6 linked regions of the Homo sapiens genome follow. The protein of the gene in region 1 purifies or fractionates together with the protein of each later gene. This does not show direct contact. Each region holds a gene or a part of one and is shown in the gene's direction. Other genes may lie near its edges.

What was found.
Region 2: the proteins of AKAP8 (region 1) and CCND2 purify together in Homo sapiens (affinity purification with western blotting, with the first as the bait; one study listed by BioGRID). This does not show direct contact.
Region 3: the proteins of AKAP8 (region 1) and MYO1E fractionate together in Homo sapiens (co-fractionation; one large-scale study listed by BioGRID). This does not show direct contact.
Region 4: the proteins of AKAP8 (region 1) and WRAP73 purify together in Homo sapiens (co-immunoprecipitation; one study listed by IntAct). This does not show direct contact.
Region 5: the proteins of AKAP8 (region 1) and NBEAL2 purify together in Homo sapiens (tandem affinity purification; one large-scale study listed by IntAct). This does not show direct contact.
Region 6: the proteins of AKAP8 (region 1) and NPHP4 purify together in Homo sapiens (co-immunoprecipitation; one large-scale study listed by IntAct). This does not show direct contact.

Annotation. Positions count from the first base shown.
Region 1 is NC_000019.10:15,355,788-15,359,287, reverse strand, and holds part of AKAP8 (A-kinase anchor protein 8), read left to right. Parts: intron 1-225; coding exon 226-321; intron 322-3,500. UniProt on the Homo sapiens protein: Anchoring protein that mediates the subcellular compartmentation of cAMP-dependent protein kinase (PKA type II).
Region 2 is NC_000012.12:4,280,262-4,283,761, forward strand, and holds part of CCND2 (G1/S-specific cyclin-D2), read left to right. Parts: intron 1-3,500. UniProt on the Homo sapiens protein: Regulatory component of the cyclin D2-CDK4 (DC) complex that phosphorylates and inhibits members of the retinoblastoma (RB) protein family including RB1 and regulates the cell-cycle during G(1)/S transition.
Region 3 is NC_000015.10:59,205,372-59,208,871, reverse strand, and holds part of MYO1E (unconventional myosin-Ie), read left to right. Parts: intron 1-23; coding exon 24-191; intron 192-283; exon of another isoform or gene 284-785; coding exon of another isoform or gene 786-1,931; exon of another isoform or gene 1,932-2,029; intron 2,030-3,386; coding exon 3,387-3,472; intron 3,473-3,500. Other genes in the region: LDHAL6B (L-lactate dehydrogenase A-like 6B), read right to left, coding at 786-1,931. UniProt on the Homo sapiens protein: Actin-based motor molecule with ATPase activity. Unconventional myosins serve in intracellular movements. Their highly divergent tails bind to membranous compartments, which are then moved relative to actin filaments.
Region 4 is NC_000001.11:3,633,104-3,636,603, reverse strand, and holds part of WRAP73 (WD repeat-containing protein WRAP73), read left to right. Parts: intron 1-573; coding exon 574-660; intron 661-1,309; coding exon 1,310-1,444; intron 1,445-1,529; coding exon 1,530-1,607; intron 1,608-3,100; coding exon 3,101-3,206; intron 3,207-3,500.
Region 5 is NC_000003.12:47,000,166-47,003,665, forward strand, and holds part of NBEAL2 (neurobeachin-like protein 2), read left to right. Parts: coding exon 1-239; intron 240-835; coding exon 836-1,014; intron 1,015-1,113; coding exon 1,114-1,273; intron 1,274-1,523; coding exon 1,524-1,661; intron 1,662-1,754; coding exon 1,755-2,123; intron 2,124-2,205; coding exon 2,206-2,355; coding exon of another isoform or gene 2,356-2,369; intron 2,370-2,479; coding exon 2,480-2,637; intron 2,638-2,791; coding exon 2,792-2,916; intron 2,917-3,008; coding exon 3,009-3,144; intron 3,145-3,500. UniProt on the Homo sapiens protein: Probably involved in thrombopoiesis. Plays a role in the development or secretion of alpha-granules, that contain several growth factors important for platelet biogenesis.
Region 6 is NC_000001.11:5,982,426-5,985,925, reverse strand, and holds part of NPHP4 (nephrocystin-4), read left to right. Parts: intron 1-3,500. UniProt on the Homo sapiens protein: Involved in the organization of apical junctions; the function is proposed to implicate a NPHP1-4-8 module. Does not seem to be strictly required for ciliogenesis. Required for building functional cilia.

The DNA of each region.
Region 1 (3,500 bases):
ATCAGTGGTGCATCTTTGCATTTATCTCTTAAGATTGCCTAGCTTTTCCAGTTTGTTAGTCTTGGTTGCACAGTCTCTGGAGCCTTCTATTCTTGGAGGCTGGCGTTTTGAGATTCGCTTCTCTGCATAGGGCTGATCTCAGGATGACTCGGCAGAGCCTGGCTGGTTTATTCTCTTCCTTAATCTTTGCCATTTTTAAGAGCTCACATTTGGTTCCCTTTGCAGTTGGCTGCTGAACAGTTCAAGAAAACCAGTCTCCATGTGGCTAAGAGTGTTTTGAACAACAGACATATAGTGAAGATGCTGGAAAAATACCTCAAGGTTTGTGCTTGCAAGTACCACAGACAGGAAAAGCTTTCAAAAGGGAAGATGAACCCCAGGAGCAGGGAGTTGAATCCAGAGTGCAGCATTTAGCATTTCTGAGTCTTTTGACAGTTGAGGGACACTGGAATGCATCAAGCTCAGGAACATGACAACTGGGATTTCTAATGAGTCAGTGCTTGCCTGGGGACTCTGGGGATGTGGCGCTGCTTGATTAATCAGTGCGTAATGGATTTTTACCATGAAAAATCCTGATTGTTTAGCCTTAAAATTCTGAGCAAATGATGGTTAGGTGATTTTTTAAGAAAAACCCAAGGCTAGCCCTACTCGGGAAGCTGGGATGGGAGGATTGCTTGAGCCCAGGAATTTGAGGCTACAGTGAGTGATGGTGTTACCACTGCACTTCAGCCTGGGTAACATAGCAAGACTGGTCTTGAAAATAAAGGAAAGCGGGGAACCGGGAATTATGGCTCATGCCTGTAATGCCAATAGTTTGGGAGGCTGAGGCAGGAGGATCCCTGAGCTCAGGAGTTAGAGGAGTTAACGATTGCGCCACTACACTCCAGCCCAGGTGACAGAGTGAGACCCCATTTCAAAAAAAAAAAAAGAATCCAAGGTACATGAGAATTTTCCAGGAGAGAAGCTAAAAAGAGATTTCATTGATAGAGCCAACTGACAGTGAGGTTGAAGGTGAGGGGTAGTGAAGAACCAGAGCCTTCATGATGGGAGCAGCATATCGAAGTCCCAAAGTGGGTGCTCATGGAGAGAAGGCTGGTTGGAAGAGCTCCCAGTTCTTCCTTGTGAAACCCATTTTGCTCAGTGTTCATCCCAGGACTTTAGCATTTGGGGCAGGTGGCTAAGTCCCAGCCCACAACCTGACTTCAGGACCTTTGCCCTCCTCTCAGTTACTAAACACTTCCATATTTGACAGTTCCATCTATTAAAGGCACAGAATCTAAATAACCAATTGAAGAAACATGACTGGGCCGGGCGTGGTGGCTCACACCTGTAATCCCAGTACTTTGGGAGGCTGGGGTGGGCGGATCACTTTGAGTTCAGGAGTTCAAGACCAGCCCGGACAACATGGTGAAACCCTGTCTGTACAAAAAATACATAAATTAGCCAGGCGTGGTGGCATGCGCCTGTGGTCCCAGCTACTCAGGAGGCGGAGGTTGCAGTGAGCCAAGATCGTGCCACTGCACTCCAGCCTGGATGGCAGAGTGAGACCTTGTCTCAAAAAAAAAAAAAAAAAAAAAAAGAGGGAGGAAACATGACTGATGTATATTTTACCTTTGCAGCTTAAGCAAGGTAAAAGTTTCCAGAGTCAAGTGTGAGCTCAGGCTTCTAAGCGTCTTTTTTTTTGAGTCAGGGTCTTGTTCTCTTGGTACCCAGCCAAGAGATTCCTGCAGAGATTCTCTGCAGCCTCGAATTCCTGAGCTCAAGAGATCCTCCCCACTCAGCCTGCCAGGTAGCTGGGACTGCAATAGTACACCACCACACCTGGCTAATTTTTTTTTTTTTTTTTTTTTTTTTTTTTTGAGATGGAGTCTTGCTCTGTCACCCAGGCTGGAGTGCAGTGGTGCGATCCCGGCTCACTGCAAGCTCTGTGTCCTGGGTTCATGCCGTTCTCCTGCCTCAGCCTCCTGAGTACCTGGGACTACAGGCGCCCACCACCATGCCTGGCTAATGTTTTGCAGGGGGATGGGGTGGCCGGGCGTGGTGGCTCACGCCTGTAATCCCAGCACTTTGGGAGGCCGAGGCGGGTGCATCACGAGGTCAGGAGTTCAAGACCAGCCTGGCCAAGATGGTGAAACCCCATCTCTACTAAAAATAAAAAAAAAATTAGCCAGGCGTGGTGGCGGGCACCTGTAATCCCAGCTACTTGGGAGGCTGAGGCAGTGAATTGCTTGAATCCGGGAGGTGCAGGTTGCAGTGAGCCAAGATCGCGCCATTGCACTCCAGCCTTGGCGACAGACCAAGACTCCGTCTCAAAAAAAGAAAAGAGAGATGGGGTTTCACTGTGTTAGCCAGGATGGTCTCCATCTCCTGACCTTGTGATCTGCCTGCTTCCGCCTCCCAAAGTGTTGGAATTACAGACGTGAGCCACTGCACCCGGCCACATGCTGGCTAATTTTTTAAGACAGTCTTGCTCTGTTGCCCATGCTGGTCTGGCCTCAAGTGATCCTCCCGCCTTGACCTCCCAAATTGCTGGGGTTACAGGCGTGAGCACCTTGCCCTAAGCATCATATTTTAAAACATGTTTCCTAATCTGGTAATGATAACTTTTAGTTTGCTTGTTTTAGACTACAGATAGTTTTCTATCATATACTTAGGAGAATTTTGACTTCTGAGGGAGTCAGACTTGGATTTGAATCTTGATTCGCCACGTTGCCCAGGCTGGTCTCGAACTCCTGAGCTCCGGCAGTCCTCCAGCCCCAGCCTCCCAAAGTGCTGGGATTACAGGCGTGAGCCACTGTACCTTAATGAAACTAAAATATTACGTAGTGTTAACTTCCTATTACATGCCCTTTATTTTATTTTATTTTATTTTTTTGAGATGGAGTCTGACTCTGTCGCCCAGGCTGCCAGGCTGGAGTTCAGTGGCGTGATCTCGACTTACTGCAAGCTCCGCCTCCCAGGTTCACGCCATTCTGCTGCCTCAGCCTCCCGAGTAGCTGGGACTACAGGCGCTCGCCACCATGCCCGGCTAATTTTTTTTTTTGTATTTTTAGTAGAGATGGGGTTTCACTGTGTTAGCCAGGATGGTGTCCATCTCCTGACCTCGTGATCCACCCATCTTGGCCTCCCAAAGTGCTGGGATTACAGGTGTGAGCCATCACGCCCGGCCTCATGCCCTTTTTTAAAAAACATCAAGTTAAGGCTGGGCTTGTGAACTTTTCCTCGCTGGTACATGCTTGATTAAAAATTGCAGGCCAGGCACGGTGGCTCGTGCCTGTAATCCCAGCATTTTGGGAGGCCAAGGCAGGCGGATCACCTGAGGTCTGGAGTTCCAGACCAGTCTGCCCAACATGGTGAAACCCCGTCTCCACTAAAAATACAAAATTAGCCGGGCGTGGTGGCTCCTGCCTGTAATCCCAGCTACTCAGGAGGCTGAGGCAGGAGAATCACTTGAAACCAGGAGGCAGAGGTTGTGGTGAGCTGAGATCGCGCCATTGCAC
Region 2 (3,500 bases), on another chromosome or scaffold:
TGTTCCGACTAAAGTGGATATGATGGCTTTCCTTTTCTGGCTGCCCTTACGTGTTTCTAGCAGGACCTGTGTGTTCTGCACTTGCAGGCTTGAGTGTGGAGTCCTCCCGGCCCCCTGCCTGTTCATCTAGGGCACAGGTTTCCCCTTGCTGGTTTTCTGTAGTCCTGTTCTCCTGGATGCAGGCCAGGCCTCATGGCGTGCACATGCGCCCTGTGCCCCTTGGTGGGAGAGTCCGTTATCCTTCCTGCAGCCCTGGGGGCGGTTCTTAGGACCCCTGTGGACCCCTGCTGCCTTTTGGATAGTGGTCACTCTGGCTTCCTTCCCTTCTGCTGTCTGGCCCGGGCCCGAGAGGTCAGTCCTCCAGTGACCTGTCATTTTGTCTCCCAGGCTCGGCTGTCTCCTTCCTCTCTCATCATGATTCACTGTGGGGGAGGGGTCAGCCAGTTCTTTCTCTCTGGCCCAAGGACAGCTGACCCCCGACCCTAAACTCCCCCACTGCCCAGCTGTTGATAGCCAGAGCTCTGCTCAACACTGTCTCTTGACTAACAGATCTTTTGGGGTCTAACTGCCCCTTCCTCCTCTCTGATCTCTGATTGGGGTAGGGGTGCTGGGTGGAGTTACCGGGGTGTGGGCAGATCCCCAGATTCCGTCTAGACCCATTCTCGAAAACCGGGGATCCCATCCCCCACCCGTGGCCTTCTTGCCCAGATCTTTGGGCTGGCTGCCAGCTCCGGGGCCAGAGTAGGGAGCCTGGGATTCAGAGACTGAGGACAGAGGCCCAGAGGGATACAGAGGCAGTTATAAAGACTGTGTTTTGGGGGCCTTGAACTAGCTTTGGTCAGGGACTAGGAAAGGACACCCCCAAACCACATGAAAATGGTGTGCTAGGCACTAAGCCTCAGGCGTTGACAGGGCAGAGCACAGGTAGGTCCTCGGCAGTTTCCTGGGTCTGGAAAGGAGGGGCCTGTATCGAAAGAAGTTGCTTTCCCTCATCTGCACTTGGGTTTGTGCAACTGACTGAGTCACATAGAATCCTGGCTGCGTGGAGTTTTACAACAGTCGGCCTCACAGTACAAACACCGAAGGCCGCTTTTCTTGAAGGAAACACCTTCCATGGAGAGGCGATTGTGCATTGTGGGGCCAGGGTGTGATGAATGGGCAAGGACCCAGGACTCTGGCCAGTAGCGGGCACAGAGTGACTGAGAGGCAGAGGTAGGAGATGCAGATTCCCCAACCCGAGCTGTTGCCCTCACCTGCTCCTCAAATCGCACACTTCCCTCCTTTTCTCGCAGTCCTGGATGTTCCGTCCTGGAGCTGATGAAACACCTGCGGCCAGGGTCTCGGAGGTCCACAGTGGGTGGAGGGTGGGGGTCCCGAGAGATGGCCGCCAACCCTCAGGCCGTGCAGCTATTTGATGGGAAAAGCTGGTTGTGAAAGAGCTGGCAGTGGTTCTGCAGTGTGTGGGGAGCGTATTTGTGTGTGAAAGGGGAAGGGAGAGCAGGAGAACATAGAGGGGCCGCGTAAGTGTGGCGAAGTGGCGGTCTTGCTTTATGGGGCTCTGGATTAAGATGGTGGCAAGGCGGAGAGGAGCCCTCCTTCCTTCCCTGCTCAGCCTAAAATGGCTTCTGGAAGAGCAAGGGCCGCAAGCTGCTGGTATCCCTCTGCAGCAGGTCCTGGGCAGTGCAGGCATGGGTGGGTTGGGCGGGGGATCTTCCTGACTACAGCTCCTAGCATTCCTGTTCCTGGAGTTTCCAAAACTGGGGAAGCAGAACTGAGCCATAGCTTCCCTGGTTGCCGCTCTGCTGATAGAACACCCAGGTCTGCAAGCGAGGAAAGAAGGCCATTGGAGATGACCTGGGTTCGCACTCTGGCACTGGGAGATTGTTGAGATGTGATACCATGCTCGGTGGATGATTCCAGTTAGTCTAGCAGAGCCAATGGCATTGAGTTTACACCTGGCACCGGGTAGGGGGAGGTGCTCACCCTCCCTCTCCAGGCACCCACATCCCCTCTTTCTTCACTAGAAGCCCACCCTAAGATGCTGCACCTTGGTATTTGTGCCACACACGGTAGCCACCCCCAGGCCTCCCCACGCCAAGGCCAGAGCCCCATTGTTGACTAGAACCCATTGTGCTGTCCTAGCCCCTTCCCTGGCTTTACCTACAGGTGTTCCCTCAGATTCCATCGCCAAGTGAGAGGGAGACAGTGGTGGCCCAGAGAAGTTCGATGACTTGGCCCTTGATCTAGAGTGGGAGATTTCGCCTTGATGGGTGCTGGGAAGGAAGAATGGAAACCCGTCTTTCCATCTGCAAGTCTCTGAGCTACCCCTGAAGCCGCGAGGTCATGGGACTGAGGGGGAGTCGTTAGCATGCCCTGTGGGGACAAGCAGCCAGGCAGTGTGGTGCTTGCCATCGCTCTTCCCTCTGGCTGTAAGATGAATGGGTAGCAGGCTGCTCATCGCCCTCCAACCAGCCCCCTCCCCAGCTCCTCCCAGCAGGCCTTGCAGTTGCATGGGCATTCCCTTGCCATGGCAGCCCTGCCCCACAAGGACAGGGTATGCTGGTCCTCTTATGGGGGTGGCAGATGAGGTGCGTGCCCAGTGACGTCCCTGGCCTGTGAACACTCTGGTTCTGGCCCTTTGAACTTCCACCTGACTGCAGGTTGGAGAAGAGAGATGGGGAAAGCCTGACCTGGCCTTCCCTTTCTTCTTCAGCGTCAGAGTGCGTATCTCTCTCCCCCTATTGGTGAACAGAAGCAAAGCCATCACCCCTGCACCCCAAGACCTCGGCCACCATAGCCAAAATGATGGGTGCTAAATGTACTGGGCAGGACCATGTATTCCGTGGTTTTAAACTTACTTAGCTCTGAACTCTTTATTTGGTAAAATCCTACCAAGAAGTGCAGATACCAAGTTGATGAAATGGAGCACTTCTCAGGGCCCATGCCCAGGTGAGGGAGCCCAGCGGGACCCCCAGAGGCTCCCAGGGCATCCTTGGGAGGATAAGCCTTTTGTGCTTGCTGGTGCCGGGGCTGCGGCTGGGACCCAATTCCTTTGATTCCTGAGCCAGAGCGCCACCTTTGGGGCTCTTCTCCCACTTCCGACGTGAAAGGCTGCCCTGTCCTCCTGAGTGGTATATGGGAGGTGACTTTGAGGAGCTGGTCAGCTTCCAGTAAGTTACGAAGAGCTCTGCATCCAGAGTCTCAAAGTCTCATCCGGATCCCAGGCCCAACACTCACAGTGAGTGACATCAGCCAGATCACTTCATCTCCCAAGACTTCATTGATTCACCTGTAAAAGGAGATGTTTGAAACAGATGAATTTCAAGCTCCTTTTTATTAATACCTCACCATCATCACCGCCGTCATAAGCAAGCATGCAGCCCACAGCAGAGCTGCCCCTGGCGCCTGTGGGTCCAGCTGGGATTCCCCTAAGGTGTGTCCTTTGCCTCCACCATTTTGCCAGGAGGGAGGCGGGAATGTCGGGTGTTCCTGGTTATCTG
Region 3 (3,500 bases), on another chromosome or scaffold:
CCTTGCCTTCTTGCTCCCATCAGAACCCTCCTGGCATCATGAGCATCCTGGATGACGTGTGCGCCACGATGCATGCGGTGGGTGAGGGGGCAGATCAGACGCTGCTCCAGAAACTTCAGATGCAGATTGGGAGTCATGAGCACTTCAACAGTTGGAACCAAGGCTTCATCATTCATCATTATGCTGGGAAGGTATGGCCAATATCCATTTTAATGTCTATCTGTTTTAAGCCTTTGGGTTTGTGATCTGGTTTCTCATGAAGCAAATCATATGGCTCGCCGTATTTTATTGATTCAACAAACGGAATTTATTAACTATCAAAGGAAGCAAAACAAAAGATTGTATATACTACTGCATTTTTTTGTATGTACATTTATTTTTACATTGTAGAAGAAGCTACTACTTTTTTACAGCATATAAATGAACATAGGTATAAACCAGCAAGAATGAAAGAAATAGCATATATCTAATGAAAAGAGTCGGAATTTCTAGAACACAATAAATACCTACATCCTACTTTTTGGGAACCAAATGCCAACTACATATATATAACATGGCAAGTGCTGCTACATCAGAGGTACCAAAAATACTTAGGAATTGTAAATAAGTATCGTCCAGCACGTGGATGCTCAATAAAAGAGCTGGAGGACTAAATAAATAGGAAAATCACTCTACCTACTTTCCTGTTTCCATCTTTTAGGAATTCAAGTTTATTCAAAATTTCGTTATATAATCCTGTATCTATGATCTCTTCAATAATTTCGGAATGGTAGTTTTAGGCAACTTTAAAGCTTAAGCTTATTCTGAATTTCCCAGAGTGTTTTTGCACTTTTTTTCAGATGGGCCTCTTCTTCAGGGGTCAGCTTTATCTTTATAAGGTTGGTAATACCGTTCTCTCCCAGGATACAAGGAATACTGAGGAATACTTCTTCATCTATTCCATAGAGGCCCTTAATTATGGTGGAAACTGGATGTATTCTCCTAAGATTCTTCAAAATACTTTCTGTTAAATCGGCCACAGATAGGCCAATGGCCCAAGAAGTATAACCTTTCATTTTAATAATCTCATAGGCAGTTGCAGTCACTTCTTTGTGGACATTTTTCCATTGCTCAGGATCTTTATCAGTTCCTATATCAGAGTTCAGATCCTTCAAAGGGACACCAGCTATGTTCACTCCACTCCACACAGGAACACTTGAGTCTCCATGCTCTCCGAGGATCCATCCATGGCAGCTTTCAGAATGGATACCAAGCTTTTGTCCAATCAAGAAACGAAAACGAGCAGTATCCAGATTACAGCCGCTTCCAATAATACGGTTTTTGGGAAATGCACTCAACTTCCAAGCTACATAAGTTAAGATATCCACTGGATTGGAAACAATAATCAGTTTGCAGTGGGGGCTGTACTGGACAATACTGGAAATCATTAACTTGAAGATGGCCACATTTCGCTGGACTAAATTAAGGCGCGTTTCTCCCTTTTCTTGGCGTGCACCTGCTGTGATAATCACTAGGTTGGAGTTTGCTGTGACAAAGTAATCTTTGCTACAAACAATATTTGGCATTTTCGTGAAAGGGCTGCCATGTTGAAGATCCATCGTCTCACCCTTCAGTTTGTCTTCATCAAGATCCACAAGGGCAAGTTCATCACTCAAGCCTTTTAATAAGATGCTGATAGCGCAGGCCATGCCCACCGATCCAGTTCCTATGATGGAGACCTTACTGTGATGAACGGGCTTCTCGGAAGTGAAACGCTCAATAAGCTCACTCTTCACAGTCGCCATCTTGCTCACGGGGGTGAAGAGCCAGGTGCCGTTGAGCGGGATGCGCGTTGCTTGACGCGGACACAGGGCCATCCCCAGGCATAGGAAATTCGCTCCCACCGAGCTCACTCTCTGGCTGGCCCGCACAACAGGCACAGTCCAACTCATGGCTGCTCACTGAAGAAGTGGAGAGAGAGAATGGAAAAAAGCTGCTGATCCGAACGTTGAGACGCCAAGAGAGCCGTTGGCAGGACCTTCAGCACTCTACGGCAGGTGCGCGTGCCCCGCCCCCTGGCCCTCTACTGCGGCTGCGCGGGCCTTGCCAGAGTCTCCGACACGTGCTTTCCGTGGGTGCTCAGACTAAGGCAGTGAAGGGCTGCTTCTCTAGCAAGTGATTTCTGGAGTTAGTTTTGCTAAGAGTATTATCAATAGTTGACATGCTTAAGAGGCTAACCGAGATCCCTGGAATTACTAGTTTTTTATTTTTAATATGAATGCTGAGGAAACATGCTTCTGTTAACTACAGATGAAAATAAGGTTACGTTTTCTGAACCGTGACCCTGCCAGGAAGGATAGGGCTCTATGCTTTGCGTACTGGTGGCTGCCTGCACCATCTCCCAGTGTCCCAGAATTGGGCGCCTGCTTTCTGGTCTATGGCGCTGGAGGCCTATTTTGAAAGGATTCCACTGCCTTGGTGCCAGTCCTGGCCAGGACCCACCCTGGGACAGTCGGCTGGGGCTTCAGCAGGGTAGGGGCCGGCTGGGAGTCACTCCAGCACTAAATCTCAGCATACTACTGCATATTTTTGGAAAATGAATCACCCTGCTACATGTATTAGCTGCTGAATAAATGGATTTTCGTCTTGCCTCTTGCTGGAATCACAGACTGGCATTCCTTGTCTCCCCATGCCTACTGGTAGTATAAATCAAGGCCCAGAGTGCACTTTTGGTGTTCTTATAAAGCCCATCAGTATTGGGTGCCTACTGGATGCCAGGCTGTGTGGGGCTGCTGATGATAAAAAAGTTAAGTTGAGGTCGTGGTCTTGGGGACTTCCTAGTGCTATGGAAATCCCCTGGTCTCATCCATCATCCCAGCTGATCTCTTGTTAAACAGAGTATCTGAGCATGAGTTTCTGGCCAGATTGGTGCAACTTTGATACCACTTCTGGGAGAAACTGCAAAGCCTCAGATGACATGGCTCATTGCAGTGAATTACTGAGCATGAGGGGCTTCACTTTTGCTCTGGCTTAGCTAAAATTTAGGAAAAGTATTGAGTATGTCACTTAGACACCCCTATGGATCCACTGAAGAAGGGGTATGGGGACTTGAGAGCTGGAGTTCTGATTACGGATCAGCTGGGCCATCCAGGCAGCCAGATACTCATCAGCATCTGCAGGCCTTCCCCACTAAGTCAGCTAACAAGTAAGACGTGCACAGCCTTCCTGTGACAGTGCACAATGAAATCCCAAATGCAACATCTGGAAATCCACATGTTGTGGTGAGGGTAGCCATGACAGCTTTGGTTTTTTGTTTGGTGAAATTAGATTTTTTGTTCAATAAATGATTTTGTTCAATTAATTACATTTTGTTCAATGAAATTCGATTTCTTTCCATTCTTGGCCAGGTATCCTATGACATGGATGGCTTTTGTGAAAGGAACCGGGATGTGCTTTTTATGGATCTCATCGAGCTTATGCAGAGCAGCGAGCTGTAAGTATGTTTTGCCATAGCTGACAGG
Region 4 (3,500 bases), on another chromosome or scaffold:
ACATATGAACACGATTCCAGCACAATCCATCATTAAGGTAGAGCAACCTCTGGAATGCTGTCAGAGTGCAGAACCCGGGATCCAGGCAGTGCTCTGGAAGGGACTTGTCTGAGCTGGGTCTAAAGGAGTGAGCCTGGCCAGGCAAGGAAAGGTGAGGGGGAGAGTGTGCACATGAGTGCAGGTGCGGGGAGACCAAGCCACCTTCGGGGGCTGGCCAGGCAAGGAAAGGTGAGGGGGAGAGTGTGCACACGAGTGCAGGCGCGGGGAGACCAAGCCGCCCTCGGGGGCTGGCCAGGCAAGGAAAGGTGAGGGGGAGAGTGTGCACACGAGTGCAGGCGCGGGGAGACCAAGCCGCCCTTGGGGGCTGGCCAGGCACTGACGCTGGCATCTGTGGCGGTGCAGCCCCAGCAGCAGCTCTACAGGGATTTCATGCATTTCCAGGATAGAGCTGTTGAGATTTTGTCAATTTCTATATAAGGAAATTAAGTGCGTTAAGAACATCAGTCATAAATGCAATTATTTATTTACGAAAATATTTTCCAAATTTAATGTTTCCCCCCCTTCCTTTGGAAGCATTTTGATACGGACACCCAGGATCTCACAGGGATTGAGTGGGCCCCAAACGGCTGTGTGCTGGCAGTGTGGGACACCTGCTTGGAGGTATGAAGATGACCAGGTGACATGTTTGCTTTCGAGAGCTTTTCCCGGAATTTCATGCTTTCTGAATGCTGCAATATAGTTTGCTTTATCTTATTTCAGATAACAAGTTGAGCTTTGTTTTAAAAGACAGGGTCTTGCTCTGTCACCCAGGCTGGAGTGCAGTGGTGTGATCACGGCCCACTGCAGCCTCGACCTCCTGGACTCAAGTGATCCTCCTACCTCAGCCTCCCAAGTAGCTGGGACCACAAGCATGCACCACCACGCCCGGCTAATTTTTGTATTCTTTGTAGAGATGGGGTTTCACCGTGTTGCCCAGACTGCTCTTGAACTTCTGTGTTCAAGTGATCTGCCAGCTTCGGCCTCCCAAAGTGCTGGGATTACAGGCGTGAGCCACAGTGCCCGGCCGAGTTGAACTTTTATCAGCGAGCCATTAGGTTGACCTCCCAATTTCCCCTTTTTCCTCATGCTCTCACTGCCTCTCCGTGACTATCTCAGTACTAGCTGGCAGTTCCAGCTTTTCCACGGCCACGCGGACAGTCCTGCCAGCTTTGTGCTATCTGCACCAATGTCACTCTGCAGCACCCGCGTCTGTGGTGTGTTCCTGGCGACGGGGGTGTATTCATTATTAACTGAAATGTCTCATCTGCAGTACAAGATTCTGCTGTACTCATTGGATGGCCGGTTGTTGTCCACGTACAGCGCTTACGAGTGGTCCCTGGGCATCAAGTCTGTGGCCTGGAGCCCCAGCAGTCAGTTCCTGGCAGTTGGGAGCTATGATGGAAAGGTGGGAACCAGTGCAGGGCACTCAGGAAGTCCGACCGCCCAGCGGGCCGGGCCCTGCCTCACCTGTGCATGGTTTCCTTCCTCAGGTGCGCATCCTTAATCACGTGACTTGGAAAATGATCACGGAGTTTGGGCATCCTGCAGCCATTAATGATCCCAAGATAGTAAGTCTGGAACACGTGTTTCTGCCTGAGCAGGCTGTTGGGGAGGGCGGTGGGAAACTGCTCCTTCACTTTGCTTTCTTGATTGTGGTTTATTATTTAACCGGGCACTTCCATCACCGTAAACTTGCTACTGTGACATTTCACGCGTCTGGCCCTGCCCTGGCCTTTGTTCTTCCTCCTCCACGCTGCCCAAAGGGTCTGAAGTGGGCCTTGCCCTGGCCTGTCCTCTGCCGCTGCCACCCCAGTCCAGTTTTCTCCTTTGTGGTCTGTCTGGATGCAGATCCCTGTGCTGTACAGAGTGGCCAGGGTCTCCTGCCCCCAAACACTGGGCATCTGCTGTCGTGCCAGGCACTGTGCTCTGGGCCGCAGCCAGAGAAGAAGAGACAGACCCCTGCACTTGCAGAGTGCGGCTGGAGAGACAGGGAAGGGGCTGGAGAGCTGGGTGTCTCCACGGGGTGGCAGGGAGTGGCCACCAGCGAGGGATCGCAGGCACAGATGCTGCACCAGTGATCAGGGACTCGGGGAGGGAGCGTTCCAGGCCAAGGGAACAGGAAATGCAAAGGCCCCGAGGAGTGGGCCACGCATCCATGTGTGCAGCGGGCACTGCGCTGGGAGCCAGAGACAAATGCTGCCCTCCTGGTGTTGACCTGTAACCGACAGAGCTGAGTGAAAGGCGGCTTGGATTCGATGAAGAGGCCAGTGAGTGGCTGGGGCTGCGCATGCCAGATCAGCCACTGCCGGGGATGCATCCTGGAGGGGTGTTTAAGTGAAGACCAGGAGGAGGAGCTGCGCGGTGTCTGGGCAGAAAGGGTGTTTCAGGCAGAGGGGCCTCCTGACGTGGCCAGTGGCTTGTGTGGCTGGAGGCCAGGGTGTCTGGACAGGTGAGCCCGAGCAGGGCTGGCCACACAGGTCCTGAAGGTTTGCCTGTGATTCCTGCATTCTCCAAATCCCTTCGCCACACAGCAGCAGAGCATGCTTTAAAGGCATGAACCAGGCCAGGTGACTCCCTTACCTGGGGCTCTTCAGGGGCGTAGGGGCTGCCCGCCTTCCACTGAGCCTGGGCCGCTGTCCTTTGCTTGCCAGGCTCTCGGGCACAGATGCCCCCACCTCGGGTCTGTGTCTGCTGCTCCCGGGGCCTCTGCTGTGTTGGTGCAAGTGTTCTCTGTATCCTCTTATCACGGAGGGAAGGCTGAGCCCACTCCCTTGCTGGATGATGGTGGCTGCAGTGGTCTCCCGTCTGTAATCACAGGGCACACATTTGCTGCCTGTGTCTCAAAGGGTGGGCTCCTCAGCAGGACACGAGAGAGGGTGGCTGGGTGATCTCAGCTCTCGGGACTGCGGGGTTCGTGCTTCCGTCTCTCCCGGTGGCAGCAGGACCAGCTGTCATGGCAGGCACACCTGTTGACCATGCGCTGTCATGGGCATTTGCCACGTCCATCCTTGGCTTCCGGGTCCCTGTCCTGAGCCGGGCGTGGCCACCTTGTGTCTTTCAGGTGGTGTATAAGGAGGCCGAGAAGAGCCCACAGCTGGGACTGGGCTGCCTCTCCTTCCCGCCGCCCCGGGCCGGGGCCGGCCCTCTCCCGAGCTCAGAGAGTAAATGTAAGTAGCACATGTGATGTCATTTGTTTTCCTTTTTTAATGCAAGATTCCTCGTTGTCCAGATAAACTTCGGATGTTCCTTATGTTTAAAAAAAAAAACTTTTTTTCCCTTCCATGCTTCCAGCCAGTGTGCCCCTCAGCCTGTTGGCTGGAGGTTGACTAGGGTCTGAATTGCGCAGTGGGCCGTGAAGGTGCGGCTTCTGTTACTGAATATGAGCCCTGGAGACCCGGATCTGACAGCGGGAGCTCCGAGGGGATGTTTTTCCGGAGCTCCGAGAATGATGTTTTTCAAAG
Region 5 (3,500 bases), on another chromosome or scaffold:
TTGACCTGGGCCTGGAACGGTCTAGTGTAGGATCAGGCAACACTGCTGGTGGTGGCGGCAGCAGTGGGACTCTTACTCCAGCCAGCCAGCCCGGCACTCCTTCGCCACTGGATGGGCCGCGGCCCTTTCCTGCTGCTCCTGGCCGCCACAGCTCCAGTCTCTCCAATGTGCTGGAGGACGGCAGCCTCCCGGAGCCCACCATTAGCGGGGATGATACCTCGAACACCAGCAACCCACAGGTGAGGTGGGCCCACCCTCTGCCACTGCATGGTACCCAAGGGAGGACACTTCTGGTACACAGGGCTGGCAGTGTAGCCTCTCCAAAGGTGTGGCCCTGTCTGACCAGGGTTGCAGCCACTGGTCAGGCCTATTGCTGTCCCCTCATAGCTCTCATCTGCAGTTGTGTTCCCAGAGGGCTCCTGGAACAGGGTGAGTCATGATGAGCCACAGTGGGTGACACCAGCCAGGCTTCAGAAGGGCCCTCAAGAGAGCCTGTAGGGCAGACACCTCACAGGGTCCAAGGGCAGCAAACTCCAAAGGCCCTGCCCTGGGCTTCTGGGTTTGGGGATGGGCCTCTGCTTGTTCTATGTGAACTGCCTCATCTCCTCTTGGGAGTCTGGCAAGACCCCAGGATTCTGCCTGGAACTCAGGTAGTAGTTGAGACCCCTATACCATTCTTCCAGGCCCTTAGTGCCAGGCTCACTGTTAGCCAAATGCTCTGACTCCTGGGTGGCTACCCCAGGAGGGGTGCTGAGTGGGGATGGGTGGGCGTCAGCCTGATTCCCTCCCTTAGCCGCCCACAACCCACGCCCACACCACCCACCTGTGCCCACAGCAAACCTCTGAGGAAGAGTTGTGCAATCTGCTCACCAACGTGCTGTTCTCGGTGACGTGGCGTGGCGTGGAAGGCAGCGATGAGGCTGCCTGGCGGGAGCGTGGCCAGGTTTTCTCAGTGCTCACCCAGCTGGGGGCCTCAGCCACACTTGTGCGCCCACCAGACTGCATCAAGCGCAGGTGAGAGGGAAAGTCTGGAGGGGGAGGGGCTTCAGGAAGCCTCGGGGGAAGGAGAGAAGATAGTCAGGTAGACCCTTGAGTTCCCCACTCACCCGCCAGCCTCCTGGAGATGATGCTGGAGTCAGCCCTGACCGACATCAAAGAGGCCCCCGTGGGGGTCCTGGCCAGCCTCACCCAGCAAGCGCTTTGGCTGCTGCGTCTGCTGCAGGACTTCCTGTGTGCTGAAGGCCATGGTAACCAGGAACTGTGGAGTGAGAAGGTGCGACCCCTCAGAGAGGCGTGAGCCACATGAACACTCATGTTCATGCAAGCCTGCAGGGATCTGGTCTGGGAGGTGGATGGGTACACGTGCGCAGGTGTGGGTGCATCAGCATGAATGCCTGTGAGTGTGGACTTGCCTGTGTGCACAAACCCTACCTGGCCCCCAGCGCAAACTTTACTTTGCTCCCTTTCCATGGACTCCTGGCCTCCCCTGGTGATGTCTGTTGGGAACCTGTTTTCTGTGGCAGCTCTTTGAAGGTGTATGCAGCCTACTTGATCGCCTGGGAGCCTGGCCCCACCTGGCCAACGGCACAGCTGATCTCCGTGAGATGGCGCAGATTGGCCTACGGCTTGTACTTGGCTACATCCTGCTGGAAGACCCACAGGTGAGCACAGGGTGAGCATGGGGGCAGGGGGCGTGTGAGATGTCGGGAGCTCCAAGAGTGGCTGGGTGCCACTCATCTCTCTTGCGCCCACAGCTGCATGCCCAGGCCTACGTGAGATTGCACATGCTGCTACAGACTGCAGTGCCAGCCCGCCGCGAGGAGGCCTGCTATGTGCTCTCCAAGCTGGAGGCTGCACTGGGGCGGGTGCTGAACACCTCTTCCTTGGAGTCAGCCACTGATGAGGCAGGGTCCCCACTTGCAGCTGCAGCAGCTGCAGCAGCTGCAGAGCGCTGCTCCTGGCTGGTGCCACTGGTGCGCACGCTGCTAGACCGTGCCTATGAGCCGCTGGGGCTGCAGTGGGGACTGCCCTCCCTGCCACCCACCAATGGCAGCCCCACCTTCTTTGAAGACTTCCAGGCTTTTTGTGCCACACCCGAATGGCGCCACTTCATCGACAAACAGGTGCCTGGAGGTTGGGGCCCAGGAAGAGGAGTGGGGGCTGGGGCCCACATCGAGCACTGTTCTCCTCTGCCCAATCCTCCAGGTACAGCCAACCATGTCCCAGTTCGAAATGGACACGTATGCTAAGAGCCACGACCTTATGTCAGGTTTCTGGAATGCCTGCTATGACATGCTTATGAGCAGTGGGCAGCGGCGCCAGTGGGAGCGCGCCCAGAGTCGTCGGGCCTTCCAGGTGTGCCACCCGGGGTAAGGGATGGGAAACTGCTCCACACATGCACCCAGGAGATGACTGACAATGTGGAGAAACGGGTAGGGCAGGCAGCAGCCAGGGGACTGACCTATTACCCCCACCCCAGGAGCTGGTGCTGGAACCTGCGCAGAGGCGGGCGCGCCTGGAGGGGCTACGCTACACGGCAGTGCTGAAGCAGCAGGCAACGCAGCACTCCATGGCCCTGCTGCACTGGGGGGCGCTGTGGCGCCAGCTCGCCAGCCCATGTGGGGCCTGGGCGCTGAGGTGGGCCGGGCTTGGGGCAGGGTCGCTGTGGAGGGGTGGGGCTTGGGAGGGAGGGAGCCACCTGGAGCCCCAGACTGCCTTTGGGGTGAGGCCAGGGAGGGATGGGGGTGTCTACAGCCTTCTACCGACCCATGACCTGGGGGACATTCTGCAGGGACACTCCCATCCCCCGCTGGAAACTGTCCAGCGCCGAGACATATTCACGCATGCGTCTGAAGCTGGTGCCCAACCATCACTTCGACCCTCACCTGGAAGCCAGCGCTCTCCGAGACAATCTGGGTGAGGGAGTGTGCTGAGATGGGTCCACCCAACTCGATTGTCCCGTCTCCTGTCCTGCCTTGCTTCTGCTGAGTACCCTTGGCCCCTTGCAGGTGAGGTTCCCCTGACACCCACCGAGGAGGCCTCACTGCCTCTGGCAGTGACCAAAGAGGCCAAAGTGAGCACCCCACCCGAGTTGCTGCAGGAGGACCAGCTCGGCGAGGACGAGCTGGCTGAGCTGGAGACCCCGTGAGTGGGGCCCTGGAGAGATTGGACTGGTGTGGTGGGCAAGGGGTCTGCTCCAGTGTGTGCATGCCTCTGTGGGATCAACTCCCTGAGTGTGTCCTCTTCTGCTGCCCGACTACGTCCCCCTGAAGGGACTGTCCAAAGCCAGATGGTGAGTGGGAGAGTCTCCTAACAGGGCTGAGAGTTGCTCTTTTAACAGCCAGGCACCTGAGGACAGCACTGAGAAACACAAACCAGAGCAGGAAGGGGGCCCAGGGAGTGGGCAGGGGCTGGGTGAGGGGAGCAGGGGACAAGGGTTGGCATCCTGGCAAAATATTCAGAAGCCCAGTGGGTGGCAGGTGGGGGACAGGGGCTGGGAC
Region 6 (3,500 bases), on another chromosome or scaffold:
CCCAGTTGTAGGAACATGCAAGTGTTCTGACCATGTTGAAGCTGGGCCACGCTAAGCTCTGATGTACAGTAGGTTAAGGGTATTAAATGCATTTGAACTTATGACATTTTCAACTTAAACAGGATAGAGTCCCATCATAGGTCAAAGAGCATCTGTATTGATTTTCACTTACTCGTTTGAGTCTTATACCACCATACCCATTACCTTGGGCCTTGGCAGTATTCGGATGCAAAGTGGCCCATCAGCAAAGAGAATCTATGATTCAATGACATGGTCAGCACTTTTGACTCTGGGTAGGGTTTCTTTCTGCCCACAGTGGAGCAATTTAAAAACCCAAGTACTCTGATTTCCTGGGTTATTTGTGAGCCAGGTGGCCTTGTGCATGGCTCAGCATGGCCCGCTTTCAGCCTGGCAGTGAGGACTGCAGGGGCTGAGCTACGGGCATTCTGGCAGCTCTGTGCGTGGCTGGATGTACCACGGCCTTGGGCACACTCAGGCCCAGGCCCTGATGGCGGCACATCCATCTGTGCCCTTCAGCTGGCGGGGAACCTGCTGGACAAGCTGGTGCTTCTGTGCTGCTGCCCACGGGACACCCACACGATTGGATTGTCCTCGTGAGGCCCAGTGGCCGGTGGGAATGCGTGAGAAGGATCAGTCTTGCCATTGTCAACCCTTTTTACAGGATTTGGCTTGGCAAGGCCGTTTTCCTCTGCAGCTGGGAGAGTGATATTCACATATATTCAGTTGTTGGAGCCCCGGGTCTGTGACTAATTTACTATTATTAAATCACTGATGTTCTATATCGTTCAATTCCAAGCCCTTGGATTGAGCACCTGCTGTGTCTTTGCCACTGTGGTAGGTACTGTGGTGGCTGCTGCTTTTGTAGCTTTACTTCTAGCACTTCACTGTGTTCATTCACTTAATCCTCAGAGCAGCTCTATGAGGCTGCCACCACCTTACTCCCGTTTTATAGACGAGCAGCAGCACCTGCTAATTAAGAGTGAAGCCAGCTGCCCAGGGCGACGGCTTTAGCTGGGATGCCACCCTCCTGGTCTGGCTCAGCCGCCTTCCAGAAGCTCACAGGATAGTTGATAGCCCTTCCCTCTTTCCTAGGAGTTTTGCAAAGGAAATTTTATTTCCCCATTTCATTTTATTTTTATTTGTGAAAAGGTAATGCACGTAGTTCAAAGTTGACAAGGATGCAGAGGAAAAGTGAATCATCCCATGGCATCCCCAGGCACCTGGTGTATCACCCTAGATACAGTGTGTTTTCGTACAACTTTCTTAAATTCTAAGCAAATACAAGTAAATATACCTACATTTATTTTTCCTTTTTAAAATGCAAATGGTACTTCCTGTATTCCGTTCTGTACCATTCTTTCTTTTTTTTTGAGATGAAGTCTCACTCTGTCACCCAGGCTGTAGTGCAGTGGTGTGATCTCAGCTCACTGTAAACCTCCTCCCCCTGAGCTCAAGTGATCCTCCTTCCTCAGCCTCCCAAGTAGCTGGGACCACAGATGTGCGCCACCATGCCCGGCTAAGTTTTTGTATTTTTGGTAGAGTCGGGGTTTCACCATGTTGGCCAGGCTGGTTTCAAACTCCTGAGCTCAGGTGATCTGCCCGCCTCTACCTCCCAAAGTGCTGGGATTACAGGTGTAGCCACATGCCCGGCACTGTACCTTGCTTTTCAAAAAAATTCAGGCAGTATGTCTTATCGATCATTCATGTTATTACATGAAGAAAATTTTATTGTTCTTAAGACCGCAAGGTGTTTCTTTATATGAATGAGCCATCATTTATTGAGTGAGGCCGTGATTGATGAACATTTAGACTTTTCCCAGTCATTTGCTATTATAGGCACTGCTACAGTGAATAACCTCATTTTTTTCATGTACAGATATGTCTGTAGAATAATTCCTAGAAGTGGAATTCCTGATCCAAAGTCGTATGTTAAAAGTTATTTAAAACCCAATTACATGTTGTTTACAAAAAAGTGCACTCTAAGCATAAAGACGTAAACAGGTTGCAGGTAGAAGGGTGGAAAAATATAAACCATGTACATACTAAGCAAAGAAAGCTTTGCATCTATACTAGTATCAGAAAAAGTAGATTTCAAGGTGAAGAGTATTCCCAGAAATAAAGGGGCACCTCATAAAGACAGTGATCATCAAGGAAACGTAACAATCTCTAAATGTGTATGCACTTGTGTTAGGGGCCTCCAAGACCACCTCCCAGGTTTGAAGAGTCTCTAAGAGGACTCACATGACTCAGCATGTAGTCATACTCTCAGCTAAGGTTGATCCAGCAGAAGGATACAGAGCAAGATCAGCAAAGGGAGGAGGCATATGGGGGATGTCTGAGGGAAGAGGGTACAAGCTTCCAAGAGTCCTCTCTCAGTTGAGTCACACAGGATGCGTTTGATTCCTCCAGCAATGAATTGTAACAACACACGTGAAATGTTGTGTAGCATGTCCAAAATTCCAGACTCTCAGAAGGGAAACACGTGTTTAGCATAAGCCACAGTACATAAACAGTTTAGGCACAGTGAGCTCCTCTTACCAGTTAGGTGGTAGGAACTCTCTTGAAATCTAAGTTCCCAGACTCCAGCAAAAGGGCAGACTTCTAAGCTGGTCTTTCAAAGCATAACAGTAAGGTCTGTTCTGATAACTCTTTTGTACAAAAGAGCAAAATTGGACAGAACTAAAGGGAACTATATTCAGATTCATAATCATGGTTGGAGACTTTTAACTCTTCTTCTCTCAATTATTGAAAAAACAGATAGATCAGAACACTCATAGGGATTTGGAAGCTCTGAAGAATACCGTCAATCACCTTGTCATCTCTTAACGCTACTCCCAAGAAAGCTAGAGTACACATTCTTCCCAAGTGTACCATCAATCACCCTGTCATCTCTTAAACACCACTCCCAACAAAGCTAGAGAACACGTTCTTCCCAAGTTCATATGGAACAGTCACCAAGATAGACCGTATGCTGGGCCATTAAAATGTCCCAATAAGCTTCAAAGGACCCAAATTATAGAGTATGTTTATCGACTACTGTGCTTTTAAGTTAGAAATAAATAATATGAGATCTAGAAAATCCTCAAATAGGAAATTAACATACTGGATCAAAGAAGAATTAATAGGGAAATTAGAAAATAATTTGAACTGAGTAATGGAAGAAAATATACAGATTTATAGGATATAACTAATACAGTTCTTTGAGGGAAATGTATAGCTTTACATGACTATATTAGAAAAGAAGAAGGTATAAAATCAGTGACGTCTGTTTCCTCCTTAACAACCTAAATAAAGGAACAAATTAGATACAAACCTAAATAAAGGAACAAATTAGATACAAAGTAACTAGAAGGAAGGAAATGGTAAATACAGTTATGCATGGTTCCTTGACAGTGCCGACACATTCTGAGAAATGGTGTTAGGTGATTTTGTCATTGTGCAAACATCATAGGATGTACTTACGTAAACCTAGAGGGTAG